Regions from separate parts of the Homo sapiens genome. Here regions 1, 2, 3 and 4 are each reported to be linked to region 5. Evidence: microRNA targets listed by miRTarBase, many of them from high-throughput screens and not tested one by one. Region 5 holds a microRNA gene; each other region holds the end of a gene's coding sequence.
Evidence for each region. The annotated mature microRNA hsa-miR-3189-5p reads UGCCCCAUCUGUGCCCUGGGUAGGA and lies in region 5 at 3,643-3,667, opposite strand. An mRNA with a match to its seed (bases 2 to 7 or 8) in the 3' UTR can be bound and repressed. Matches are read on the target gene's strand: a 7mer-m8 pairs with bases 2 to 8, a 7mer-A1 pairs with bases 2 to 7 and ends in A, and an 8mer does both.

Region 1 (6,514 bases), not on the chromosome of region 5:
TTTCATTTGAGATTCATTAACTTGCTCGAGGTTCCACAGCTGGCAAGTGGCAGAGCCAGAATTTGAACTCATCCCATTTAAGAGCCTGCACATATACCACTATGCTACAGTGACTTCCCCATGCCATATTAATAATCATGACAGCTAATGGTTGACATAACAAGAAGAGAACCTGTAATCACCCCCAGGGGCTTCCCGCAGCCTCCTTCCTATTCCTACCACTGTCTGTCTGCCTGCCTCCTCCCTATGCAGCAGCCACGTCACATGATCCCCGTTCCTTGGATGGCCTATAAGGTGGTCTTCCTCTAGTAGCTGGGCCCTGTCCCTTCCCATCTGACAAACTCTTGCTCAGCCCACGTGGCCCAGTTTAAATGTGCTCTGTGCATTCCATCATCTAGTGCTTACCACATGATCATAAATCCCACTGGTGTATGTGTGTGTCTTTCCCAAGTTGGAGTGGGAGTGCCTTTGACATGGGACTGTGTCTTTCCCTTTCGGCATCTTGTATCTTCCCCAGCATCTCTGGCTCTCCAAAGCCCCCAGTAAATGTTTGAGTAAGTGAAACATGCAGAAGACATGAAGATTGTTAAGTAACAAATACTCAGCAGAAAGGGCTGTTAATTTTAAAAAAAGAAGAAAAAGAAAAGAACATCAGATATTCTAAGACAAGTATTTGTAGAGGGAATCACTAAAAGCTTTCAGTTTTGAAAGCAAATATTTAATTTAGGCTCCCCCTTCTGTGTGCTTACAAATGGCACTAAATTCAGTATAATGCTTAATCTACATTTTGAGATTTACTATGGGACTCATGGACTTTAAGAAAAAAATGTAGTTCATTGTAAATGCCTACATTTCACAGTCGTTCGTTTCTTTTAACACACACAATTGGATTGACAAAGGTAATGACTTCCTAGCTAGCCATATTCAAAAGAAATGTCAAAAATTTAAATTTATAAAGCTCTCTGTGAAATGTTGTGATGCCCCAATCAAATGACCCTCCTGATCTTGCCCGGCACCCTTTCCCTCTTGGCTGCTGGCGCCTTCCTGTCTCATTGCCAAGGACAAGCCACGTCTGCATGTCTCTATCCCACCCCTCACCACTTAGAATTCTTGAAACCTCTGGGGAGGCTGACCAAGAAGGACAGAGGACCCTATATTTGGGCTTCTGGAACCTAAGTGCCCCAGGGCTCAGAGCTCCTATTAGTGTTATTTCACATTTACTACAAGTTTAAAAAAAAAAACACACAACGGTGATGATGACGGTGATTTTTGTGTCTTGTCCATGAATCACACAATATTATTCTAGGGGGAAACGTACCCTGATTTCAAACAACTCATCTAAAAGTACAGATTTTGGAACATGACCTACATGTTTACAGTGCCACATGAGACTACACTCAGACTCATGGACTTTTTTCCTTTTTCAATTACTAACTGCTTTAGTCCTCTAAACGTGGATTCTTCTTTTTTTTTTTTTTTTAAACCAATACTGGGTCTAACTCTGTGGCCCAAGCTGGAGTGCAGTGGCACACTCATAGCTCACTGTAACCTCTAACTCCTGATCTCAAGTGATCCTTCCTCCTTGGCCTCTCAAGTAGCTAGGACTACAGAAACATGCCACCATGCCTGGCTTATTTATTATTTATTTATTTATTTATTTATTTATTTATTTATTTATTTATTTATTTATGGTAGAGATGAGGTTTCACTATGTTTCCCAGGCTGGTCTCCAACTCTTGGACTCAAGTGATCCTCCCACCTCAGCCTTCCAAAGTGCCGGGATTACAGGTGCCTGGCTCTAAACATGGATTCGTTAAAAGCTTGCCCTATTTCTTTTTTTTTTTTTTATTATACTTTAAGTTTTAGGGTACATGTGCACATTGTGCAGGTTAGTTACATATGTATACATGTGCCATGCTGGTGCGCTGCACCCACTAACTCGTCATAAACATGGTTTGTGTTTGCAATAGTGCACTCCTCATTTTATGCTGACTCTGATGGGAATGTAGGACTCAATTGCTGAAGTTGTCATTACAGCAGACTTTCCTGGAGGCCTTTGTTGTTTGTCAGGTTGCCTTCTCCAAAAGGGGACAGTTTGCCCATGTGGGATGTCCTGCCCCAAGCATTTCTAACTGCTCTTCCATCTCTGTCCTCCCTCTGCAGGCTGGCCTTGGGTGACCCTCTCTGTCCTGGGATTCCTGTACTGCTACTCCCACGTGGGCATTGCCTGGGCCCAGACCTACGCCACGGACTAATGCTGTTGGGCCCAGGCCAGTCCTTGTTGCTGGCCTCCAAGGCAAATAGTGCTTCACCCTGACCTCTCACTCCAGGACAGCCTCTAAGGGATTTGATCTGCTCATCTTCAGTTGAATGCCCTCACTCCAAGACTGGATGCTGGATCTCATAGAAAATTCACAGCCAGACAATCTTCTAATCTGGAGTCTTTGAGATCTTCTACCCCAACTCATCATTTTCCTATTGAGGAAACGGGTCCAGGGCAGTCGTGTGTCTTACCCAGCTACACAGGGTGACATTTTGGTCTAGAACCTAGTCTCATGAGCCCTTTGCATTCTTTCCCCTTAAGCAAGAATAGAATGTAGTGGAAATTTATTGATTGAGACACAGAAATCCTGATTAGTGATAGGCCTGTCTTCTGGGCAATATTTCTAAAATATTTGAGTGACATTGATGTTTAAGTGACCTCCTTCATCACATCCTGCAGTATCTCCAGAAGCAGCACTAGGGTTTGAGTTTCATGCTTCAGCCCCTCTGTAGGAATGAGACCAAGCCACAGCTGTCTTTTGAATTACGTAGTCGAAGAAGACGGTAGCAGCCCTGTAGCATTCTAAGGCATCTATACCCAAGGAGTCCTGTGATCTGAGCTTCAGCAGGGTGATCTACATTTGGGTGCTTGTTTCTGAGATTTGCAGAGAAGTATAACATGGTAGTTCCTCTACCTTACAGTTAATCGTTTCTTAATAAAGAAGCAGAATTTAGAAACCACAGGATAGTGTACCCACAGATGGGTGTTATCAAGGCCAGTCATGAGGATGGTGTCCTGGAGTCTTGTCCACCCTCTCCATACAAGTCTCAAAAGTCATCCTCCTACTCAGTGATTCACGTTTAGTGGTTTATATTATTAAGGTTTGATTCAAACAGAGCCTTTTCTGTCCTGTAGATAATCTACATGTTTGTAGAATTATTTTGAATATGTTTGAGGAAAATGTTTAAAATCTAAATATACTCACATAACTTGATTATTCACTCCTCTGAAAAGATGCTGGATAGGCTACCAAAGTTCCCAAGTGGTAGATAATTCAGAAGACTTGTTTGAATTTGGATTTTTTTTTTTTTTGGAGTGGGGAAGGGTATAAAGGAGGCTTAAAATTTGAATCCATAATATATCTAATTACAGGAGAATTTACAACATCTCAAGTACGTAAATTAAGTTGTCATTGAGTGAAAGGTTCACTTGGACCTAGTGCTGCCTCCTGTTTATTACATAGCATGGCCCTTATGTCTTGAGTTGAGGTTATCATCTCAATGAGGCTTTAGCTCCTAGAGTACAGGACCATTTTGTTGATTGTCTTTCTTCATAGCTTCTCTGCTTGGCAAAGAGATGGGAGGGGGCCAGATACTGACTACCTGGGGTAGGCACATTATGTGTTAAAGCAAGACAGAGGCCAGAGAGGGGCAGGTAGACCTGCATAGCAGCAGCCTCAGCAGCTGTCTTGGTAAAGGAGAGAGAGAGACATGGGGCCAGTAATTCCGGGGTGCTCAGAAGTTTTAGGAGGGGATGAGCCTCAGGGAGGAGTGAGCACCTAAATGAACGCAGTAAACCTTCATGGACCAACAGTGATTGAGGATTTGTGGGCAGCCAGAGGGAGTCTGACTGAAGTTTACTTGGAAAGAAAGGGCTTGCTAAGAAAAAAGGGAGTAAAAATGATGATAGGGAAGTGTCTAATGTATGTGCACATATAAGTAATACAAAAGTTTTGAGCTCTTCCAAGTATACCATTTATATACAAACAAATAGGTTTATTCATTCATTAAACTACTTTGGAAGCGTCAGTGGATATATTTGAAAGTGGTAATCCTGAATCTCTTTTAAACTATTATATGATTCATAATGGTTCTCAGGAATTAATAAATGATTACTGTGTTTAGCTCTGTATTTGAGGCTGATTAATTAATATGTGGATTATCCAGGACCATTGTTTTGCTTAACCTCTTCCTACTCCCCACTTGTAATATGAAAATGATAATGCTTCTCTCCTCATGCATATTCACTAAAATCTTGTAGTTACTCTGAATGGTGGTGCCTGGGCGCACAGAGGAGTTCAGGCAATGACACTGGACATGTCATCAGCCCTGGGCAACTTCAGGCGCAGTGTTGGGAAAAGAATAGACAAGGTCCCAAGGTCAATTCCAGCGCCTGGATCCTCTGATCCCAGCCTCGCTCTGCAGGCAAGCCCAAGAGCTCCAAGCACAATCGCCAAGATGCTACCCAAGGAGGGAAGCAAGATACCTGAAGGACACCCAAACCTCAGTCATTCTAATTCTTGGGACCACACAAGAAGACTGAAAGGTATTATTTTTTCAAATTAATTTGAAGTGTCAGCAGAAAACATTTTGTTTCATTAAAGACAGCAGGCCTCAAGAAAAAATAAATCAATGAACAAATAATTGTATTATAATCTATATACTGGGAGAATAGCAGTTTAGGTAGGGGAGGGGGTGGCTTCTCCTGACAGAAAGTGAGACTGCTCACTTGCTTATTTAGAATAATAATATAACCATTGACTAAACATAGTAAATTAACCGTAATATAATGAGTTTGGTTTTTAGCAGATGTATCAGAATATATCCATACAATAGGGTTCCCTTCAGTGTGGACAACATGAGAAGCCAAAGTATGATACTACTGGCCTCAGCACATTTTGAGAAAGCCTCTCTGAGGCTTTCTCAGGGAAATGGTTTTATTTTAAAACAAAAAACCCTCTTTTTAAAATCATTGAACTCCATTTGGCACCCAAAACATGGCATTCATTACTTAGCTCTATATTACTCGTCCTTTTGACTAATTACAAGAATCATATTCACAGAGATGTTTTGCAACATTGAAGAGATCAGACAGAATGCTTTAGGTTGTGTGTGGTGGCTCACACCTGTAATCCCAGCACTTTTGGGAGGCTGAGGCAGATGGATCACTTGAGGTCAGGAGTTTGAGACCAGCCTGGGCAACAGAGTGAGACCCTGTCTCAAGAAAAAAAAAAAAAAGAATAATAAGTTATTAGTGATAATTTTGAAACATCAATAATTTGGAATTTTAAACAATATCACCCTTATTATTTTTATAATGCTTTTGTGCAATTTGATTAAATCATGGGTAAGGAAACATTAAAAATACTGTACCCCTACTGTGATCCTATAAGATCAAGTAGACGCTTGTAGGTCAGATTCCTCATCTCCTAATTAAGTTATACTGTCTATAATAAGAGAAGTGCCATGTTTGTAATGTGGTCCACTGGATGGTAAATAAGGACTCAGGTTGGCAGTATTGTGGAGCCTTGCCATGAGCAGGAAGCAACACCGATTAAAATAGCAAAACTGAAACCATGCTGGTGTATGGGACTATTTCGATTAGAGGCAAGCTAACTTAATAGCTTCTGAGACTATCAATGAAGTGTAAAGCACAGATCAGAGCTCATATTGTAGACACTGAGTCATTCAAAAAAGATTGTTATATTCTTCATACTACGTTTTAAAAGGCAGGAGGGAAGCATTAATATATTTTATACAAATTTCAATCCAAAGTTTTCAAAATAAAAAAGTGTACATCTAAGTGGGGTGGGAGGTGTCAGCTTTGGGTATCTCAGATCCGTGTGTCATACAGTTTTCCGTGATCCCAGGCACTGAAGTCAACATCTGTGCCCTTGTACAGCAGCTGCAGCTGTACTTTAAGATTGTACAGCTGCATACCTTCATGTCCATTCTCTCACTATTTGGTACTTTGACACACAATCTTGGTGAATCTTGGACTTTAAGTTCTCAAAAAACTATAAGTGCTGTCCAAATAAGAGCTTCCCAAACTCTTGAAGAGAAAATACCATCCTTGTTCTGTCATCTTAGGTCAGAACAGCCAATTCAGTGACCTAAAAGTAATGTAAGGAAAGGCAAAAGCAAGTATCATGTATAAAATAGTTTATTACCATAATAAATAAAACTTTTTTTTTTTACAAATATCATTTGTGCTTGTTTAAAAATGTTGAGAAGGGAATATCATCAATGGAAGGGCCTGCACGTTCCTCTTAACATTCCCAAGCCACAGATATACAGTGGTGTTCTTGGCAGCATCCTCAGCTGACCACAAAAATAGTATCAGCTCATTTACACTTTTGTTTATTCATGCTCATTTGGACAAAGTGACAGATGCAAAGGAAAAAGAAAACCCAATAAAGGATTTGGCAGGACTCAATGGAAAGAGTATTAATATAAGGAGAAGCCCCAGAAT
Region 2 (3,000 bases), not on the chromosome of region 5:
GGAAGGGGTCTGCTTGAAGAGGTTGGGTACAGGAGGTGGCTCCTTTACCAGGCTGAGGCTGAGGGAATCCTGTTGGGCTGAGAGCCAGTACAAATAGTGGAGCCACTCACACTGGTGGCCTTTGCCCTCTCACCTTGCAGATGACCCAGAGGTGCGGGTTCTACATAGCATCGGTCACAGTGCTGCCCCACGCCTCTTCCCACTTGCCTGGACTGTGCTGCTCCTTCCACTTCTGCTGCTGCAAACCCCGTGAAGGTGTATGCCACACCTGGCCTTAAAGAGGGACAGGCTGAAGAGAGGGACAGGCACTCCAAACCTGTCTTGGGGCCACTTTCAGAGCCCCCAGCCCTGGGAACCACTCCCACCACAGGCATAAGCTATCACCTAGCAGCCTCAAAACGGGTCAGTATTAAGGTTTTCAACCGGAAGGAGGCCAACCAGCCCGACAGTGCCATCCCCACCTTCACCTCGGAGGGATGGAGAAAGAAGTGGAGACAGTCCTTTCCCACCATTCCTGCCTTTAAGCCAAAGAAACAAGCTGTGCAGGCATGGTCCCTTAAGGCACAGTGGGAGCTGAGCTGGAAGGGGCCACGTGGATGGGCAAAGCTTGTCAAAGATGCCCCCTCCAGGAGAGAGCCAGGATGCCCAGATGAACTGACTGAAGGAAAAGCAAGAAACAGTTTCTTGCTTGGAAGCCAGGTACAGGAGAGGCAGCATGCTTGGGCTGACCCAGCATCTCCCAGCAAGACCTCATCTGTGGAGCTGCCACAGAGAAGTTTGTAGCCAGGTACTGCATTCTCTCCCATCCTGGGGCAGCACTCCCCAGAGCTGTGCCAGCAGGGGGGCTGTGCCAACCTGTTCTTAGAGTGTAGCTGTAAGGGCAGTGCCCATGTGTACATTCTGCCTAGAGTGTAGCCTAAAGGGCAGGGCCCACGTGTATAGTATCTGTATATAAGTTGCTGTGTGTCTGTCCTGATTTCTACAACTGGAGTTTTTTTATACAATGTTCTTTGTCTCAAAATAAAGCAATGTGTTTTTTCGGACATGCTTTTCTGCCACTCCATATTAAAACATATGACCATTGAGTCCCTGCTAAGTGCGAGGCTCTCTGTGCTACAACAGTAGCAACTGGGTTTGAATTTCTTTCTCTCCAAAGAATGTGTGCCCCTCACGAGGCCAAAAGGGTGGGATGTTTCCTCCTCTGAGGGCTGTCCAGGACCGGAGTGCTCCTGACAGCTGTCTCTCGGGTTCTGAGCTGCACTCCACTCTGGAAGTTCTTCCTATCCGACCTCTACCCCACTCCCACTCCGTCACCGCAGGGCTTTGGCATACTACCATTCAGGTACTCACGCTGTTTCGGTGAGTCAGGGAAGCTGGGAACGCCAGCTGAGGCATGCGGCCCCGCCCCACAGCCACACTAGCAGAGACGTGTGGGAGGCTGGGAGGGAAAGTTCCCAGTAACAAGTGGGTTGGACCGGGGGTCAGTGATAGAGGCGTCAGTGGATTGGCCACGTCATGTAAAGTTGACCCGAGAGGGAGGGCAAAAGAGGAAGGCTTGGTGATTCCTGGTAATGTGTTATTTTGAGAAAAAGCTTCGGCAGCACACTCCAGAAAAAAACTTCCCAAACCCTGGGCAACTGAGGTTCTGATGTGGAGCTCTGGATGGAAAGCGTGCTGAAGTCTTGTTAAACTAGCAAGCTTTTGTTTGGAGGTCCACCGCCGAAGGCGCACAGGCCTGTGGGAACACGAGCGTTGAGACTGGGGGCGTCTAGATGATCCAAGGGGTAGGCAGAGTGTGAGCAGCGGCAGGTATCGGGGACACACCCGCGGAGCCCTAGGAAGGGGACTGACCGGGACATGGAAGAGGTCTGGACCAGGGTACTGGGAAGGCGCTCGGAGGAGAGGGGCGCGAGTTCCGGTTCGGCGTCGGAGGGAGGGTGGGGCTTCGGCGCAGTTTCCGGAGGGACGGCCCGAGCGTGCGGGGGCGGAGCCGAGTGCGCGGGGCGGGGCTCCAGAGCCGCAGGTCTGGGCTGCAGTAGGTCCCGGCAACCGCAGGCTCGCGGCGGGCGCTGGGCGCGGGATCCGACTCTAGTCGTAATGGAGGCGGGCGGCTTTCTGGACTCGCTCATTTACGGAGCATGCGTGGTCTTCACCCTTGGCATGTTCTCCGCCGGCCTGTGAGAGTGCGGCCGGGCTGGGTTGGGGAGGACTAGGCAGTCAGGAAAGGAGAGAGAGGGGACAGAGACGTGGCCACAGCACCTGGCTCGTCCGGAACCGGGATCAAAGTGGGATCGGGTCGAGGGGACCGGGGTACAAGGGCGAGGCTGGTCACTAGGCCTGAAGGAGAAGGCAGGATAGCTGGCGGGGGGGAGAGGGGGCGGGGTCTGCGGTGGTCCGGAAAGGATGACAGGCATTGGGCATCCCCCTCTAGCACTCTGCTTCTCCCTTCCCACCCCCACCCCTCCCTTCGGGGCCCCATTACAGCTCGGACCTCAGGCACATGCGAATGACCCGGAGTGTGGACAACGTCCAGTTCCTGCCCTTTCTCACCACGGAAGTCAAGTGAGGGGCCGACGGCTGCGGTAGTGGGAAAGGCTACCAGAGGGAGGTGGGGGCGGGGCAGGAGGAGCAAGAGTGAAAGAGGTTTGGCCGGGCGCGGTGGCTCACGCCTGTAATCCCTGCACTTTGGGAGGCCGAGACGGGCGGATCACGAGGTCAGGAGATCCAGACCATCCTGGCTAACACGGTGAAACCCCGTCTCTACTAAAAATACAAAAAATTAGCCGGGCGTGGTGCCGGGCGCCTGTAGTCCCAGCTACTCGGGAGGCTGAGGCAGGAGAATGGCGTGAACCCAGGAGGCGGAGCTTGCAGTGAGCCGAGATCGTGCCACCGCACTCCAGCCTGGGCGACAGAGCGAGACTACGTCTCAAAAAAAAAAAAAGAGTGAAAGACCCTTTGGGTCCTCCTCTCACACTGAACCCTTTGAGCCATGTCCATCCC
Region 3 (3,625 bases), not on the chromosome of region 5:
TATTTCTAAGGAGAGTTAATAAACGTTTAAGTGTCTTGTATGTGCCTACTTCTTCGCTTGAAAATAATACAGGAAAATCAAACAAATTGAGAGTCAAAAAAATTGCCTCAATGAGCAGAAAATGTAGAAAACTGACTATAGAGATATAGAAGAACAAATGACCAAATCTGTGAAGAGTTGAGAAGAAACTTTAATCCCGATAATCACTTAAGGAAGACACTAATACTTGATTTAGAAACAGAACTGATCTATTATTTGGAAATTAGTTTTTAACTCTTCATAAATATAAATCTATAGTTTTGTTCTATCTGACTTTTCTCTACCTTGGATTACCATTGTTATAGCCTTTGACCAGTTCCTAAAAGGTCTGGTCACAGAGTTTAAGAGTGGCAGGGTACTTACATTCCCCCAGCCCTGGGAGCAAGAGGACAGCGAGACTTCAAGCCTTCACACCTTAGCACAAAGTGTGTCAGTTCCCACACATCACTCCTGTGAGAACTCTAGGACCCAGCATACTAGGAATATCTTATGGATCAGAGCTGTCACCACAACGGTATCCATTATGGTAATGTGGAAATCATAATTGGCTTGTGAGGTTAGGAGAGAGAAGAAAGTTACTGTATTTGAAGTTCAGGGAGCAGTATTTGCTTCTAAATTGCTATACCAAAGCAGGGAGGAAAAGACAAATGCTATCCTTTTTGTTTTAAATCTGTAAGAACTAAAGAAATGGAGCAGTATTTGATTTATCCTTTTTATCTGATTACAGGAAAGGCAGACTACAAGTTACTGAGCACCTCCCTGAGAAAATTGAAAGTAGTTTACAGGAAGATGAACCTGAGAATGATGCTAAGAAAATTGAAGCACTGCTAAACCTTCCTAGAAACCCTTCAGTAATAGATAAACAAGACAAGGACTGAAAGTGCTCTGAACTTGAAACTCACTGGAGAGCTGAAGGGAGCTGCCATGTCCGATGAATGCCAACAGACAGGCCACTCTTTGGTCAGCCTGCTGACAAATTTAAGTGCTGGTACCTGTGGTGGCAGTGGCTTGCTCTTGTCTTTTTCTTTTCTTTTTAACTAAGAATGGGGCTGTTGTACTCTCACTTTACTTATCCTTAAATTTAAATACATACTTATGTTTGTATTAATCTATCAATATATGCATACATGAATATATCCACCCACCTAGATTTTAAGCAGTAAATAAAACATTTCGCAAAAGATTAAAGTTGAATTTTACAGTTCGTATATTCATGTGGTCCTTTGAAAGGGTATTCTAGAAATCACTGGAAAGAGGAGAGGAAAGAACCAGGTAGGCAAATGGTCTGTGAAACCCTTGGGTCCTGGAAGCAGTGTGAGTGTAAATGTGTAGTGTTTGGTTTCATCTAAATAAACAAAGATGATTTCTTTGACACTTGAAATAAAATACAAATTCAACAAAAAGTAGATCAGCATTATTAAAGAAACGGTTCAACTTTGTTTCTTCCCTTAGTATTGCTGACAAAGTATCTGCTGTAGAATACAGGAATTACTTAGAATAGAAACATAGTCATCACAACTGTTACTAAATGGAAAAGAAAAGAATTATTGAGTTAAGTATTCCTGTCAATACGGGAAACACTGCTAGTACCTTATGTTGGTGTTAGACCTCTCTGCCCTACACTGAGAATATAGTTTTACACAGGAGCAAGGTTTGTGAAGCAGCATAGTGAGGTAGCTAAAGCCATGGGCTGGCTCTAAAGGCTTTAAATCCCAGCCATGTGGCTTAGCTGCCATGAGATGTGCATTTGAGAAATGTTGTCTTCTTTTGCTGTTCAACTCCAGATTTTCAGATGATAATGTGATTATCCCAGCTTAAGTTGCGTCCACTTCTGGTCTAGTGAATTGTGGAAGGCAGTTTTAGAGAAAGGAGTCATGAGTAACATGAACAGCAGTTGGCTATGTCTTTCCAGTTCTCTGCTGATGTCAGAAAGACCCAGAAATACCAAGGAGAAAAAGCCATCTTAGGGATCTAAGGAGGCCCTATGGAAAGTTACTACCTTAGACATTTGAAGATAGCTTACTGCTTAGTACATACACTGTAAACAACGATCTCATTTTAAATGAGAACTTTCTCATAAATATTTTACAAATGAGGTCAAACTAGCATAAAGCCATTTAAAGAGATTATCAGTCCAATATGAACCAGTTAAGTCTTTGGACTATCCCTTTCCTCCTTGACTACTGCTTTGACGTACCTAAATCATTCGTCTTACATGTCAGAGGAAATTAGTTTTGGATAGTTCTCCTTTCTGCTGTACCTCATGGGGGAGTGAGAGAGCAGCAATAGAGAACACAATGAAAAAAATGGAATACTGGGTAAACACCAATAATATTTCCATTAGTCTCCTAAAGATGTTCATGCCATACTTCCTATGCATTACATTGGGCTTTTGTAAACAGCAGCATAAAATCTTCTACTCTGACATTAGGAAATCAGATAGTCTCTGAAGTTGACCTGTTATTGGACAAATTCTACTTCCAGCAGCACTTTGCCTGACATATATATGTATATACCAGTTAACAGGCCACAGTCAAACTGATAAAGGGAAAGAGCACCAGAGTTAGGAAATCTGGGTTCTGGCGCTGGCCTTTATAATTCGGGTCACCTCCCTGGGCCTCAGTGCCTTTGTCATTAATAACACTGGTATTCTCTAAAGTCCCTTCCAGAACTCAAGAATTCTGCATTTCAAAACACCTTGATCAAGGTCACCAGAGCTACTTCTGTGCCCACCATATTCCTCTAGACACTTCCTGCAAAGCAACTGAAGTGAAGAAGCACCTAAGAGCAGATACGTAAAGGGCAAGGTGGGGTAATCTTGTCCATCTGAGGAAGTTCCCAGAAGAGGTCAATTGCAAATGGAGGTGGGACCTGAGAAAACAAAGAAATGATTACATCAAACCCTATATTGGCAAAGGAGGAAAACATCTTAAATTTATTTATATATTAAATTATACATATATAATTTTTAAATTATATATGTATATATGTATATATAATTTAATTATATATGTATATATATATATTTTAAATATAAGATCTTAATTTTAATCTCTTAATTTACATTTTAATCTCAAGATCAAGGGTATTCCCAGCTTGTACACAGTAACCTTGATAGCTGAAGAATATGAAGGGAAAGCTGAATTATGAGAGAACTTAAAACTACTCTGGCAATTTTTGTCACATGAAATATCGATCAGGCAAATGTTTAGTTATTACCAGCTATTACCAAACGACCAAATGCTTGATCAAGCCACTCTTCTATGTGTGGGGCTCTCAGGCATGGTTGCTTTTCTCAATAAACCTACATACAGTCCAGTAAAGGATAGAAGGAAGATGTGGTACATGAAAATCAACCTATGCTGGTGGTATGAGATGTGCTATAGAGGTGGAACTGCTTGAGCTAGACAAGATGACCACAGAAGGCCTTGTGTAGAAGATTGGGTACACGGCTTCATTTTGAAGTATCAGCAGACTGAGCAGAAGACTTTTTAGATAGAAAGTCAAGAAAATTGTAGATAATGACAGAACTGAGCCAGAGCAACATCCTGGAAAAGACATTCTGAGGAGTGAGCAAGCATTCAGT
Region 4 (6,514 bases), not on the chromosome of region 5:
GGTCCCAGCCGGGCCCCTCTACCCAGAGGCTTCCTGGAGGGGCTGCAGGGGGCTCTGGGCAGCCAGGAACTGTTCCCAAGTCCCGAGTCTGAGGGAGACTCCCTGTCCTCAGCCCCCGCCCCCCATATGTCCACTGCACCCCATATGTCCACTGCACCTCAGTTTCTCACCCCCACTGAGCAGACAGGTGAGCATGGCCTTGCTGGGGGCAACAGCACCCGTCTCCCAGGTGTGGAGACACGACCTCCTTCGCTGTCACCCGTGGGGAGCAGGACAGGCCTCATGGAGGGTGCCTCAGCCAGCAGGTCACCCGCCTGTGGTCCAGACCCAAGGACCCTGCTTGGGGGTGGCAGCCTGGGGCTGCCTTGCCACTTGGAGTAATGAACTTGCTGGTTGTGGGGGGACCATGGGGGACCCCTGGAGGGGGGTGGGCTGCATGGCATCTGGCCGTGTAGGGGACGTGGGAATAGTGTCCGGGCAGAGGGCGCAGCCTGCAACAAGGCGCGGAGGCAGGAACACCACAGCATGGGGAGTCCTCAGGGGACCTGGTTTTTCTTTCATAGAAGCTTCAGGGGCCAAGGCCGGAGACTGCACTCTCCCTCCTCCACCCGGCCCAGCTGCGTCCCTGCCAGTGGCTCCTCCCACTTCCTCCAGTTCTAGTTTCCAACAACAGAGGCTGCAGCCACCCAGCCCCGAAGCAGGGCCCAGCGAGACAGGGCCCAGGTAAGAGACCCCTCCCCCCGGCCTCTCTCGGTGGGGCAGGTGGAGGCCCTCGGAATAGGCTGCCTCGCCCCTAAGGGGTCAGAAGTCTCCCTGACCTAGGGGCTCGGGTAGAAGGGCTGTGTGTGGGTGACCGCCCCCCCGCCGTAGAAAGGGGTTCCACAGGCAGATGGATTTGAGAAATGTTGCTTATCTGTCTGAGGCCCATGAGCTCATCTGGGGCTCAGGGGAAAACCCACAGCGAGCTCCACGGGTCATGTGTCTCCCAGACTCAAGTCCCAGGCACCTAGACACTAGGGTGGCCGCTGGGCTTGGTGGCCAGGTAGACCCTCAGGACCAGGAGGACCCGGCCTCATAGGAAGAAACTGGAGGAGTGACTTTGCCATTCCCACACACAGTGGGGCCTTATTCTCTCTCTTGCAGCCCCAAGCGTGACCCAGCTGCAGAGAAGCTGAGACGGTGATTCGGACTGACTGGACTCTGGCCTCCAGGTGTCTGCACCTCACACTGGACCCACCTGGAGACTCCACGGGCTCCCGGCAGCTCCGGCTGCTTGGGTGGATCCGGGTGCCCGCAGGGGCTGTGGGAGGGCCCCGGGGCCTGCACTGCTCCCCCGATGGCCTGCTCTTCCTCACGGCCGGGGCTGCACCCTGTGTCCACGTGCTAGATCTGGAGGGACGCCCCATCTGCCTCCTGCCCTGCCGCACTCCGGGGAGCGGGGCCTTCGTTCCAGAGGACGTGGCTGTGACAGCGTCAGGGCTTGTGGTGGTCAGCGATCCCATCCATGGGGCTGTCCATGCACTCCAGCACACAGCCCGGGACCCCGGGGGCCACTGGGTGACAGTGGGCACCTTCCTGTCTCCCCGAGGGCTGGCTGTGGATGCCCTCAACCGCCTCCTGGTGACGGACTACTTGCCTGGGGCTGTGCACAGCTTCTCGTTGGGTCCTGCTTGGGAGCCCCTGGCCCCAGCCTCCATGCTGGGTCTGGAGGGCCCCTGCTGGGTGGGCCCAGGGCCTGATGGGGGCCTTGCTGTGAGTGAGGAGTTTGGGGATGTGAGGCTGTTTGGCAGTGCCCGCCAACCCCTGGGCTCCCTGGGGGGCTGGACGGGGCACACTTTCGGCTGCCCAGCGGGCATCTGCTCCAACTCAGAGGGCAATGTTATTGTGGCAGACGAGCAGAGGCGCCAGGTGACCCTGTTTCCCCGGGCTGGGCCACCCATCTGCCTGGTGTCAGAGGGGCTTGGGCAGCCCTTGGGAGTGGCCTGTGCACCCCAGGGCCAGCTCCTGGTGGCTGATGCCAAGGACAACTCCATCAAGGTGTACCAGGGCCTCAAGGAGCTGGCCTGACCTGAGGCTGGGTTGGAGCAGCCCTCCTGTGCCTGAGGCCAGCTCCCAGGCCCTTGGATCACCGCGGGAGGAACCCTCAGGATGGGTGGAGCCTCCAGGCTATGGGCATTGCCTGCCTGATGCCAGCACCACCTGGGCTGGGCCCTGGGCTTGGCTCGAGTTCTCCTGCTGGTGAGGCTCCGGATCTCAGGAGCAGCCCTGAGTCTGCTTCCCAGGCTGCCCCTGCCAGGCCTGCAGCCTCCCCAGCCAGGGCTGCTCTCTGCTGTCCCCATTCAGTGCCCTGGCCCCTGCATTCATGCCCCCCACACCCCCTCAGGCCCTGTGCCTGGACTTTGGGGCTGGCAGCTGAAGCCTTGAGATCCTGGGCCAGCTGCCGGCACACAGCTAGGCAGACTCTCCCACCAGGTGCCCCTGCCCAGGCCTCCTAATCGGGGGCAGACAGGCAGGGAGGGTGTGGCTGGGCTGGGCTGGGCGGGGCGGCCTGGGGCAGGGGTGTGGCCCCTAAATGTCCCCAACCTCAGAGGGACCTAGAGTCCTGAGCCTCCAGTAGCTTCTCTGGGCCTGGCAGAGGTAAGGGGGAGGCAACCCTGGAGTGTCTGGAGGCCCATGGCTGGCTGAACCCTGGATGCCTTTTCTTCCGCGTCCCCATGAATGAAAGCTGTCTGGGCCTTCATTCTGCAGACAGGGACAAACAGCTCCATGCTGTTTGTCCTCCCAGTGCAGCCGTGCTGGGAGGGTCTGGGGGAGCTTCCTACAAGGAGAGACTCCTGCTGCTTTGGAAAACTGAGAAAAAATAGGGGTCTAACCCTCTCCTCCCATTTTACAAGTGGGGAAATGAGGCGTGAAAGGAGAGGCGTCTGGGTTACTCCGTGGGTCTGGGGTCCAGGGAAGGGCCTGTATGGGGGAGGGAGCTGGGAGGGGACGGTGTCTGGCTCTACCCCTGTGGGGTGGGGAGGTGGGGCTCCCCTGTATCACAGGACATCCCCCCTGAGAGGTCCCTCATATGTCTGGGTCCTGTGGGTGGGGGACTAACTGCGCAATGTAGTTAGGTGCTCAATAAACGGAGTTGCCGCTGAGGTCTGGGCTGGGGTCTTGTTCCTGGGATCGGGAGGGGCTGGACGCCTGTGTGTTCTCTCCTGACGATCGCTGGCGGCAGCCTCTGGGCTGGTCCTACCAGGGCTCAAAATTCCCGGCACCACTGGCCTTGGGGATCTGGGGGCGGCCCCTCTGCAGACAACAGAGTGACGGGGGCGGGACCGGGCTGGGGCTGGGGCCTTCCTGGAATCCCGCAGGGCCTGGGGACCTGTTCACTTGGGGAGGCTGGGAGCCAGGCGGGGTCCGGGTTCCACGAAGGCCAGGTCCAGTCAGTTTCTCAGGTGAGGAAACCGAGCTGACGCGGGGCTGGCGGCCCGGAGGCAGGCTCGGGAGGTCCGGGCCTGGGGACTGGGCGGGCACGCTGCGCCGCGGAACGCTCGGGTCGGGCGGGCGGGCGGGCAGCCCGGGCGCCTTTGGGGGCCGGACCGTCGCGCGGCAACGCGCGGAGCCGGCGGAAGTGGGGCTCGGGTCCCGCGGCGGGGCTGGAGGCAGCGAGCGCCGTCGTCTGCCCGGGCCCGCCCATCGGGGTCCCCAACCCCATCCGGACCCCGCCGCCCGAGCGCGCGGCCCCGGAAGCACCCGGTGAGCAGGGGGGGTGGGCGGCGCGCGGCGGGACCTCGGGCAGCGCCCCTGCGGCTCCGGGCCTGGGCTGGGGGCTCCGCACTCCCGCCCGCGGCGCCGCTGCTTTCTCCTCCCAGAAGTGGGGCCGCCCCCGGGCCCGCGCCGACCTGGGCCCCTGTGGACCCTGTGCAAGGGCGGTCGGCGGCCCGGGCCTGGCTGTGGGCCCTTCGCAGTTGTCCCGGTTTGCAGGAAAGGGCAAAAAACGGAATCGTAGGCTCTTCCCAAATGAGAGGGGAAGGCCCTGCTTGAGGAAGGCAAGCAAGTTTGTTTGTTTGTTTGTTTTGAGACGGGGTCTCACCATGTTGCCCAGGCTGAACTCGTGTTTGTTTTTCATTATTTATTTATTTTGAGAGGGAGTCTCGCTCTGTCGCCCAGGCTGGAGTGCAATGGCGCGATCTCGGGTCACTGCAACCGCTGCCTCCCGGGTTCCAGCGATTCTCCTGCCTCAGCCTCCCCAGTAGCTGGGATTACAGGTGCCCACCACCACGCCCGGCTAATTTCTGTATTTTTAGTAGAGACTTGGTTTCACCCCCATCGAGGCTGGTCTTAAGCTCCTGACCTCAAGTGATCCGCCCGCCTCGGCCTCCCAAAGTGCTGGGATTACAGGCGTGAGCCACCGCGCCAGGTTGGTGTTTATTTTTCAAACAAGGCGCTGGGAAACGCAAATTCTCCAGAGCTCTTGTGGAGCGGTGGCAGGGAGGGGCGGCTCAGCCAGAGATGGCCCTGGCCCGTCCTAACTGGGCTGGGGTGCCCCCATTCCCTCATTCACGGGGAGGAGAGGGAAGTCTTAGTCTTACTACTTTATATGGTCGACCTCCCTACCTGCCTGGTCTGGGAATGGCTTCTCAAGAGCACTCGGGCTCATTCTTAGCAGAGGAAGCTCTTCTGGCTAGCCTGGCGCCCGTGTGTGTGTGTGTGTGTGTGTGTGTGTGTGTGTGTGTGTGTGTGTGTGTGTGTGTGTGTGTGTGTGTGTCTGGCTAGCCTGGTGCCCGTGTGTGTGTGTGTGTGTCTGGCTAGCCTGGCACCCGTGGCTAGCCTGGCGCCCGTGTGTGTGTGTGTGTGTGTCTGGCTAGCCTGTGTGTGTCTGGTTAGCCTGTGTGTGTGTGTGTGTGTCTGGCTAGCCTGTGTGTGTGTGTGTGGCTAGCCTGGCGCCCGTGTGTGTGTGTGTGTCTGGCTAGCCTGGCAACCATGGCTAGCCTGGTGCCCGTGTGTGTGTGTGTGTCTGGCTAGCCTGGGACCCGTGGCTAGCCTGGTGCCCGTGTGTGTGTGTCTGGCTAGCCTGTGTGTGTCTGGTTAGCCTGTGTGTGTGTGTGTGTGTTTGTGTCTGGCTAGCCTGTGTGTGTCTGGTTAGCCTGTGTGTGTGTGTGTGTGTGTGTGTGTGTGTGTCTGGCTAGCCTGGCGCCTGTGTGTGTGTGTGTCTGGCTAGCCTGGTGCCCGTGTGTGTGTGTGTGTGTGTGTGTGGCTAGCCTGGCGCCCGTGTGTGTGTGTGTGTGTGTGTGTTTCCTCAGTCTTTAAAGATGCTCACGTTGCTTTCTCCCGTCCCATACCTCCTCTGCTATCGATCGCTTCTCTTTCATCTTCCTCTGGCTGTGTGATCCCAGCAGCTGCTAGTGCAGGCTTCTTTGTGCCGCCGACCGTCCCAGAGGCTGAGGTGGGAGTGTGATGGGCGTTTGCCCCACAGTACGTTGAGTTTTCTCTCACTACTCGACAGAGAAGAGTAGCTTCTGCCCTCCCATCTCCTTCGGTAGACACAAGGCACTTTTTTTTTTTAAGGTAAACTTTGTAGATGAAGCACAAAGAATACACACAAAGAAAGCGCACAGATCGTGAGCACGTAGCTCGGTGAATTTACCCAAAGTGAGCCCACCGCAGAACCAGCTCCCCCTAGAACATCTGTTTACTGTTAGACCCATTGTGTTTCTTTTCCGACGATATCTGTGGGCAGTTTTCCTTAGTCCCTGTGAAAGCTCTTCCCCAGCAGGGCGTGATGGGTCCCTGGGCTGAGCTGGTGTGAAAGGTGGGCTGTACTGGGTGGTCCCCTATGGTGGTCACACAGCCAGACACGCTGGGCCCCTTGCAGGCAGAATCACTTTGTCCCTCTCACGATGTCCTTGGTGCCTCACGTCAGCTGGCCTCCAGGCATCCACCCGCCGCCTGCCCTCTCTGACCACTGAGGAAATGGGCATTTGAGGAGTTCTGCAGCCTGACCCAGAAGGTCCCTTTTCAGCTAGAACCCACCGCCTTGAGTGACTGGATCCTCCAGCCCCAGTGCGGGCTGCCTGCAGGGGAGGAGAGCAGCTGCACCAGGGGCCTCTTAAGCCCCAGGCATTTCCGTGTGAGGCCTCTTCCAGAGCCCCTCCAAGCTTCGGGAGAGGACTTACAGGTCACACCACCCCGACGTGTGCATCCTGCTCTGTTCCCTCGTCCCTAAGGATGTGGTGGGCTCTGAGACCTCCAGGCATCCTGGTCTGTTCCCTCATCCCTAAGGGCGTGGTGGGCTCTGAGACCTCCAGGCATCCCACTCTGTTCCCTCGTCCCTAAGGGCGTGGTGGGCACTGGGACCTCCAGGCGTCCCGCTCTGTTCCCTCGTCCCTAAGGATGTGGTGGGCACTGGGACCTCCAGGCGTCCCGCTCTGTTCCCTCGTCCCTAAGGATGTGGTGGGCACTGCGACCTCCAGGCGTCCCGCTCTGTTCCCTCGTCCCTAAGGGCGTGGTGGGCGCTGGGACCTCC
Region 5 (6,514 bases):
CTCACTGAATACGTTAAGGGGAACCTGCAGTCATTCAGGTTGGCCTGTGGGTGATGGCATTCCCAGCAGATACACCTCACTGCTGGAAGTGGGTACTCTGTCCCTCAAGACACCCATCGCCATTCCTCTCAGAGATTCAGGATGGGCAGGCAGTTTGGTGTGGAGAGGGGGCTGGACTCAGCACACCTCAAAATTCCAACATCCTAAACAGGAAGTATATATAACCTGGGAGATGTGGTGTGCATGAAAATATTCTTCACAACTTATTTGTTTCTCCCTACTCTTTATATGTGAAAGAATGAGGTGTCACTAACATGGAAGTGCCACAAACAGGAGGGGTGATGGGACTAACCCCTCAGGTTGGGGACAGTACCACAAAACAAGGCACTTGGTTGCAGATAGACTTGGCTCTGAGCTGCCTGTGTTTGGAAAGGTGACTCCCAAGTGGGGAGAGCAACAGGATGGTGATAGAGACAAAGACAGAGACAGATCCTCTGCCTCAGACCCCAAAGAGAGAAGTTTTGAGGAATGAGGAAAGATGGAGGGAAGCTGAGACTTAAAAAGGTATGGGGTCTCAGCTGTTTCCAAAACAGAAACACCAGCCTGGGCAACATGGCGAAACTCAGCCTCTACAAAAAATACAAAAGTTAGTTGGGCATGATGGCATGCACTTGTAGTCCCAGCTACTCAGGTGGCTGAGGTGGGAGGATCGATTGAGCCCGGGTGGTTGAGGCTGCAGTGAGCTGTGATTGTGCCACTGCACTTCGGCCTGGGCAACAGAGTGAGACCCCGTCTAAAAAAAATAAAAAGAAAAAAGAAACAGCAATAAGGAGATAGAGAAATAGAGACAGAGAGTCAGGGAGTCAGGAATGGCCAAGGCTGCCCTTAGAGCCCACAGGTGTCGTAAGCACCTTCCAATGGCTTGGCATCTCCGAGAACACCTTGCCACTCATTCCTTGAGCCTTTCCACTTACCCCCTCCCAGGTCTCCTAGAGAAACTGAGGTCAGGGAGAGGAGGATCTTCTCAAGGTCACCTTCCCTTATCCTGGACACCACAGGGAACAGTTCAGACAGCTTTATTTTTATCACCAGAGTTTTAAATAAATACACAGTTCCATCAGACCAGCCCCCGAGTCCCCAAGAAGGTCACCCCAATAAATTAATAATAAATAACAGACTTATATAAATACAGCTGTTTGGGCAGGAATCGGGTGTCTCAGGAACCTTGAGCCCATTCCACAGGGCAGGACAACTGAGGTCGCGTCCTCCGCGCAGGTGCACAGTGGAAGGACCAGGACTGCTCATATGCAGTGGCAGTCTTTGGCTAACAAGTCATCATAGGTCTGGAGCGACACCCCGGTGTCGGTCTTTTGAATGAGCACCATGGGATTGTAGCTGGCGGGCACGCAGCAGGGCGCTGGCACCGTGTCGGGCTTCAGGCGGTGCAGGCTCGTCTTGATCTGCGCGTGCATGTTTGCCGCCCGGAACTGGCTCGGGCACGCGCCGATGCACATGGTCACTTGCACCTCCCGTGGCGACAGCACCCAATCGGCCCAGCCCAGGTCTTCCAGCGACGCGCGGACCGTGTGCAGACGGCAGCAACGCCCGGGCCCGAGCGGACAGTGGTCCCCGTTGCGCGCACGCGCTCTGCGGCGCCCCCTGGCGGCTTGCGGCCGCAAGTGCAACTCCAGCTGGGGCCGTGCGGACGAAGATTCTGCCAGCAGTTGGTCCGACTGCGACGGCGGCGGCGACAGTCGCAGGTGCAGCGCGGGCGCCTGGGGTCTTGCAAGGCTGAGCTGACGCCGCAGCGGTCGTGTCACGTCCCACGACCTTGACGCCGTCGGGGACAGCCGGAACAGAGCCCGGTGAAGGCGGGAGGCCTCGGGGAGCCCCTCGGGAAGGGCGGCCCGAGAGATACGCAGGTGCAGGTGGCCGCCGGATCCCAGCCGCACTGTGGGAAGACAGATAGGGAAGCTGGTCACCCACAGGCCTACCGTTTTCCAGGAACGAGGGTGCCCATTTCCCCTAACACGCCAAGCTGGATCTCACCACGGCGGCGGCGCCTTTGCACAAGTTATTTCCCCTACCAAGAGCATTTCTCCGTGCGGGCGCGGTGGCTCACGCCTGTAATCCCAGCACTTTGGGAGGCCGATGCAGGTGGATCACTTGAGGTCAGGAGTTCAAGACCAGCCTGGCCGATATGTGGCCAATATGGTGAAACGCCCGCTTCTACTAAAAATACCAAAAATTAGCTGGGCATGGTGGCTGGCGCCTGTGATCCCAGCTACTCGGGAGGCTGAGGCAGAAGAATGGCTTGAATCGGGGCGGTGGAGGTTGCAGTGAGCCAAGATCGTGCCACTGCACTCCAGCCTGGGCAACAGAGGAAGACTCCCTCTCAAAAAAAAAAAAAAAAAAAAAAAAAAGGGCATTTCTCCCCTTGAATCTCCTGAATCTCAGTATGGCTGGCTCCTCCTCTTCCTTCCAGCCTGCCTAAAATAGGAAGCACCCTATTTTATTTCCTTGTGTATCATTCATATTCCCTACTTAGAATCTTAGCTTGGTTGACACTGTGCCTGGCACACAATAGGTGCTTAGTAAATACTTGAAGGAATTAATGTATATCTGATATTCAGGCAGCCTGAGATTCCAACCATGGCTCTGCTTTTCTTCTGGCAGTCAAAAACTTACTTGCTTCACTTATTTATTTATTTATTATGGTCTTGCTGTTACCCAGGCTGGAGTGCAGTGGGGCACTCATGGCTCAGTGCAGCCTCAATCTCCTGGATTCAAGTGCTCCTCCCGCCTCAGCCTCCTGAATAACTGAGACTACAGGCACACACCATCATGTCTGGCTAATTTTTTTTAAACATTTTTGGTAGAGATGGATTCTCGCTATACTGCCCAGGCTGCAATGTTCTGGCCTAAAGCGATGCTCCCACCTTGGCCTCCTAAAGTGCTGGGATTACAGGTGTAATCCCGAGAAATGAAGAGTGCCAAACCCATCACATTCCAGACTACTGAGCCTCTAGGAATCACAGCCCCTCAGGCTGGTACAAGTGTTAGGGAGACTGGGGAGACTGGGGTTTGAGGGTGCCTTAACCTAGTTGCTAGGCTTAGCAAGGGTGAGAGGTTTGCCGGAGTCACACGGCACAGATGGGTTTAGGGCGGGCTAAGAGTGTGCCCCTCTGCCTGCCCCCTCCTGGGTCCCACCACAGCCCAGACCTCATCCAGTGCCCTGCACCCCTGGAGCCTCCATGGAGGGCACAGAGATGGGGAAAATACTCTCCTCCTCCCCTAACAAGTCGCTCGTTGCATGTGACTTTAGCAGTGCCTTGACAAGCGATTTCATCAGATTCAGAACCAGCTCCAGCTGGCTCTGCCCATCACAAACTTCTATCCATGCACCACACCCCCATTGTTTCTCTTGGATCCTGGCCCCAGCCCAGGTCAGGGACCATGCCCACACCGCACGCCCGACCCCGTCCCCGGGTTTCCCAGGTGCTGTGCACATTCAGGAGGGTCCCTGGCATCCCTGTACCTCAGTTTCCCCATTTGCAACTTGGGGACAGGTTATAACCTCCCACGTTGTGGGTGCAAATCAGGCATCGGCTACCCCATCAGACCCAAGGGGATCCAGGATATTCCTACCCAGGGCACAGATGGGGCAACTGAGGCTCAAAGGTAGGTCTGGGCTTTTCAAGATGAGGAATCCCTGATTAGATATGGGGGCTGCTTGGGGGGTGGGAGGGGATCTCTAAGATTTCACTTACCTTCTGGCGTGAGTATCCGGACTGCAGGGGCCGGGACGAGGTCGGTGTTCGAATCTTCCCAGCTCTGGTTGGCCCGCAGCCTGGTTAGCAGGTCCTCGTAGCGTTTCCGCAACTCTCGGAATCTGGAGTCTTCGGAGTGCAACTCTGAGGGTCCCGGGAAACTTGCGCGGCTCGCCTCGGCCAGAGACAGGGCGCCCCCATGCGGCAGCCACGAGAGCACCAGCAACACCAGGAGCATCTGAGAGCCATTCACCGTCCTGAGTTCTTGCCCGGGCATGGCTGTGCAGGTTGCGGCTCTGAGCTGGGACTGACCAGATGCTGCCGGACCGGCCTTTATAGTCCCCGGACTTTGTCCGTCTCCGCCTGCTCAGTCCCGCCCTCCTCCCCCTGCCTGCAGAGTAAACACTCCAATGACCACAGCTGGGCGGGGTCTGGGGGTGTATTTAGGGGGAGGATCTTTAGGTGGGGGCGCTCCTAGTAAAGCTAGGGCACATTTCTGGGCCTCAGTATCCTCTTCCTCGATATGAGGACACCATTCCAGCCTGGGAGTCTTTTTGGAGGAAAAAAAGACATTGTTACTATGTGAAAAATTCCAGACAAGAGTTTAAGAGGTGGCTGTCTATGCCCATGGGATTTCCTCTCTTCTCTTTTTGGTTGGGGTCAAAGGCTAAAGATGGTGAAAAACAAAGGAAGCAGAGGAGAACGGGCTAGATGGAGCCAGGAAGGGCAACCTTGATGTGTCATGCCTCTCTGCCATGCCTGTTTCCTCACCAGGAAAAAAAGGACTGAGACTCTCACTGGAGAGGTGGTCAAATGAGGGGTAAAGCACAGGGCCAGACACATAGGAGGCACTTGATAAACTGGGTGTTATTGCAGTTACTCATCCTCCTCTGGAGAACTCCTACTCATTCTTCAAAACTCTACGCAAAAAGCCCCTCTTCCAGGAAGTCTTCTCCAACATTATCTTTCCAGTCTAAGCAGGGTGCTCCCAAACCCCATCCTTTTGTCTGGCTCAGCGCTCACCTTGAAGCCATCCTCACAGGATTCATAATTCTGGGGGCCAGGCATGGTGGCTTATGTCAGTAATCTCAGCACTTTGGGAGGCCGAGGTGGGTGGATTGTTTGAGCCCAGGAGTTCGAGACAAGTCTGGGCAAGATGGCAATACCTCATCTCTAAAAAAAAGAATTCTGCGCCGGGCACGGTGGCTCTCGCCTGTAATCCCAGCACTTTGGGAGGCCGAGGCACGTGGATCATCTGACGTCAAGAGTTCTAGACTAGCCTGACCAACATGGAGAAACCCTGTCTCTACTAAATATACAAAATTAGCTGGGCTTGGTGGTGGGATTACATGCCTGTAATCCCAGCTACTCGAGAGGCTGAAGCAAGAGAATCGCTTGAACCCAGAGGGCGGAGGTTGCAGTGAGCCAAGTTTTCACCATTGCACTTCCGCCTGATCAACAAGAGCAAAACTCTGTCTCAAAAAAAAAGAATTCTGGACAGAAACTTAGTTATAATTAAGCACTAATCAGGCTGCACTTTGACCCACTTCCTTGTGACCGCAAGTTGCTTGTAGCACCTGATACCGACCATTTGCTATAGATGTGATTTCCGACCTTAGAATCATAAGACTTTTTAGAAGAATTTCTTAAGATGTTTTTGAAATCCTTAACCAATGACACCCACCAGTGTGAAGACCCCACAGAGGAACGGAATCTGCATGAGAATACAGTTTCTTACTGTCTGTGACTTCACCTCCTGCACTCTTTCACCAAGCAATGACCTCCACACTTCAGCCCACTCCAAAATCCTTAAAAATTAAAACTCTAGCCCCTGGCCAGGTGCAGTGGCTCACGCCTGTAATCCCAGCACTTTGGGAGGCCAAGGCGGGCGGATCACCTGAGGTCAGGAGTTCGAGACCAGCCTGACCAACATGATGAAACCCTGTCTCTACTAAAAAATTTCAGAAATTAACCGGTCGTGGTGGCACATGCCTGTAATCCCAGCTGCTCGGGAGCCTGAGGCAGGAGAATCGCTTGAACCCAGGAGGCGGAGGTTGCAGTGAGCTGAGATCATGCCATTGCACTCCAACCTGCAAGCTCCAGCTCCCAGGTTCATGCTATTCTCCTGCCTCAGCCTCCTGAGTAGCTGGGACTATGAGCACCCCCCACCACGCCTGGCTAATTTTTTTTTGTATTTTTAGTAGAGATGGGGTTTCACCGTGTTAGCTAGGATGGTCTCAATCTCCTGACCTTGTGATCCGCTGGCCTCGGCCTCCCAAAGTACTGGGATTAGAGGCGTGAGCCACCACGGCCGGCTGACTCCATCTTAAAAAAATATATATATTTGTATATATACATTTATATGGCCCCAAACTCCTCCTCCTGGAAATGGATTTGAGGTTCCCTCCTATCTCCTCATTGGGTGGCCCTAGGATTAAATCTCTTTTTTTTTTTTTTTTTGAGACGGAGTTTCTCTCTGTCCCCCAGGTTGGAGTGCAGTGGCACAATCTCGGCTCACTGCAACCTCCGCCTCCTGCCTCAGCCTACTGAGTAGCTGGGATTACAGTCATGCGCCACCACACCTGGCTAATTTTTGTGTTTTTAGTAGAGACGGTGATTCACCATGTTGGCCAGGCAGGTCTCGAACTCTTGACCTCAAGTCATCCGTCGGCCTCTGCCTCTAAAGTGTGGGGATTACAGGCATGAGCCACTGCCCCCAGCCTTTTTTTTTTTTTTTTTCTTCC

Region 1: miRTarBase lists HHAT as a target of hsa-miR-3189-5p. Seed matches in the 3' UTR shown: 7mer-m8 at 3,754-3,760.
Region 2: miRTarBase lists EFNA1 as a target of hsa-miR-3189-5p. Seed matches in the 3' UTR shown: 7mer-A1 at 809-815.
Region 3: the mRNA of TIMMDC1 is a reported target of hsa-miR-3189-5p. Seed matches in the 3' UTR shown: 7mer-m8 at 1,083-1,089.
Region 4: miRTarBase lists NHLRC4 as a target of hsa-miR-3189-5p. Seed matches in the 3' UTR shown: 7mer-A1 at 2,550-2,556.

Annotation. Positions count from the first base shown.
Region 1 is chr1:210,672,125-210,678,638 of GRCh38, forward strand. HHAT (hedgehog acyltransferase) reads left to right here. Exons shown (of 12, transcript NM_018194.6): 12 at 2,164-4,166. The coding sequence ends at 2,255. It overlaps KCNH1 (potassium voltage-gated channel subfamily H member 1), which reads right to left. Exons shown (of 11, transcript NM_172362.3): 11 at 6,190-6,514. Among named protein-coding and RNA genes, the nearest start is that of HHAT, 350 kb to the left of the region's middle.
Region 2 is chr1:155,133,815-155,136,814 of GRCh38, forward strand. It overlaps EFNA1 (ephrin A1), which reads left to right. Exons shown (of 5, transcript NM_004428.3): 5 at 141-1,085. The coding sequence ends at 253. SLC50A1 (solute carrier family 50 member 1) reads left to right here and starts at 2,038. Exons shown (of 6, transcript NM_018845.4): 1 at 2,038-2,177; 2 at 2,485-2,562. The coding sequence starts at 2,098. RefSeq lists an enhancer at 1,479-1,568 and a silencer at 1,839-2,078.
Region 3 is chr3:119,522,840-119,526,464 of GRCh38, forward strand. It overlaps TIMMDC1 (translocase of inner mitochondrial membrane domain containing 1), which reads left to right. Exons shown (of 7, transcript NM_016589.4): 7 at 767-2,251. The coding sequence ends at 917. It overlaps CD80 (CD80 molecule), which reads right to left. Exons shown (of 7, transcript NM_005191.4): 7 at 1,454-2,910. Among named protein-coding and RNA genes, the nearest start is that of TIMMDC1, 26 kb to the left of the region's middle.
Region 4 is chr16:566,353-572,866 of GRCh38, forward strand. NHLRC4 (NHL repeat containing 4) reads left to right here and starts at 653. Exons shown (of 2, transcript NM_001301159.2): 1 at 653-723; 2 at 1,119-3,143. The coding sequence starts at 1,696. The coding sequence ends at 2,067. PIGQ (phosphatidylinositol glycan anchor biosynthesis class Q) reads left to right here and starts at 3,616. Exons shown (of 11, transcript NM_004204.5): 1 at 3,616-3,744. RefSeq lists enhancers at 84-979, 928-977, 4,563-5,457 and silencers at 3,483-3,642, 3,713-3,932.
Region 5 is chr19:18,383,723-18,390,236 of GRCh38, reverse strand. It overlaps MIR3189 (microRNA 3189), which reads right to left and starts at 3,675; the gene lies at 3,603-3,675. It overlaps GDF15 (growth differentiation factor 15), which reads right to left and starts at 4,079. Exons shown (of 2, transcript NM_004864.4): 1 at 3,771-4,079; 2 at 1,061-1,951. The coding sequence starts at 4,047. The coding sequence ends at 1,302. RefSeq lists enhancers at 3,955-4,124, 3,713-4,535.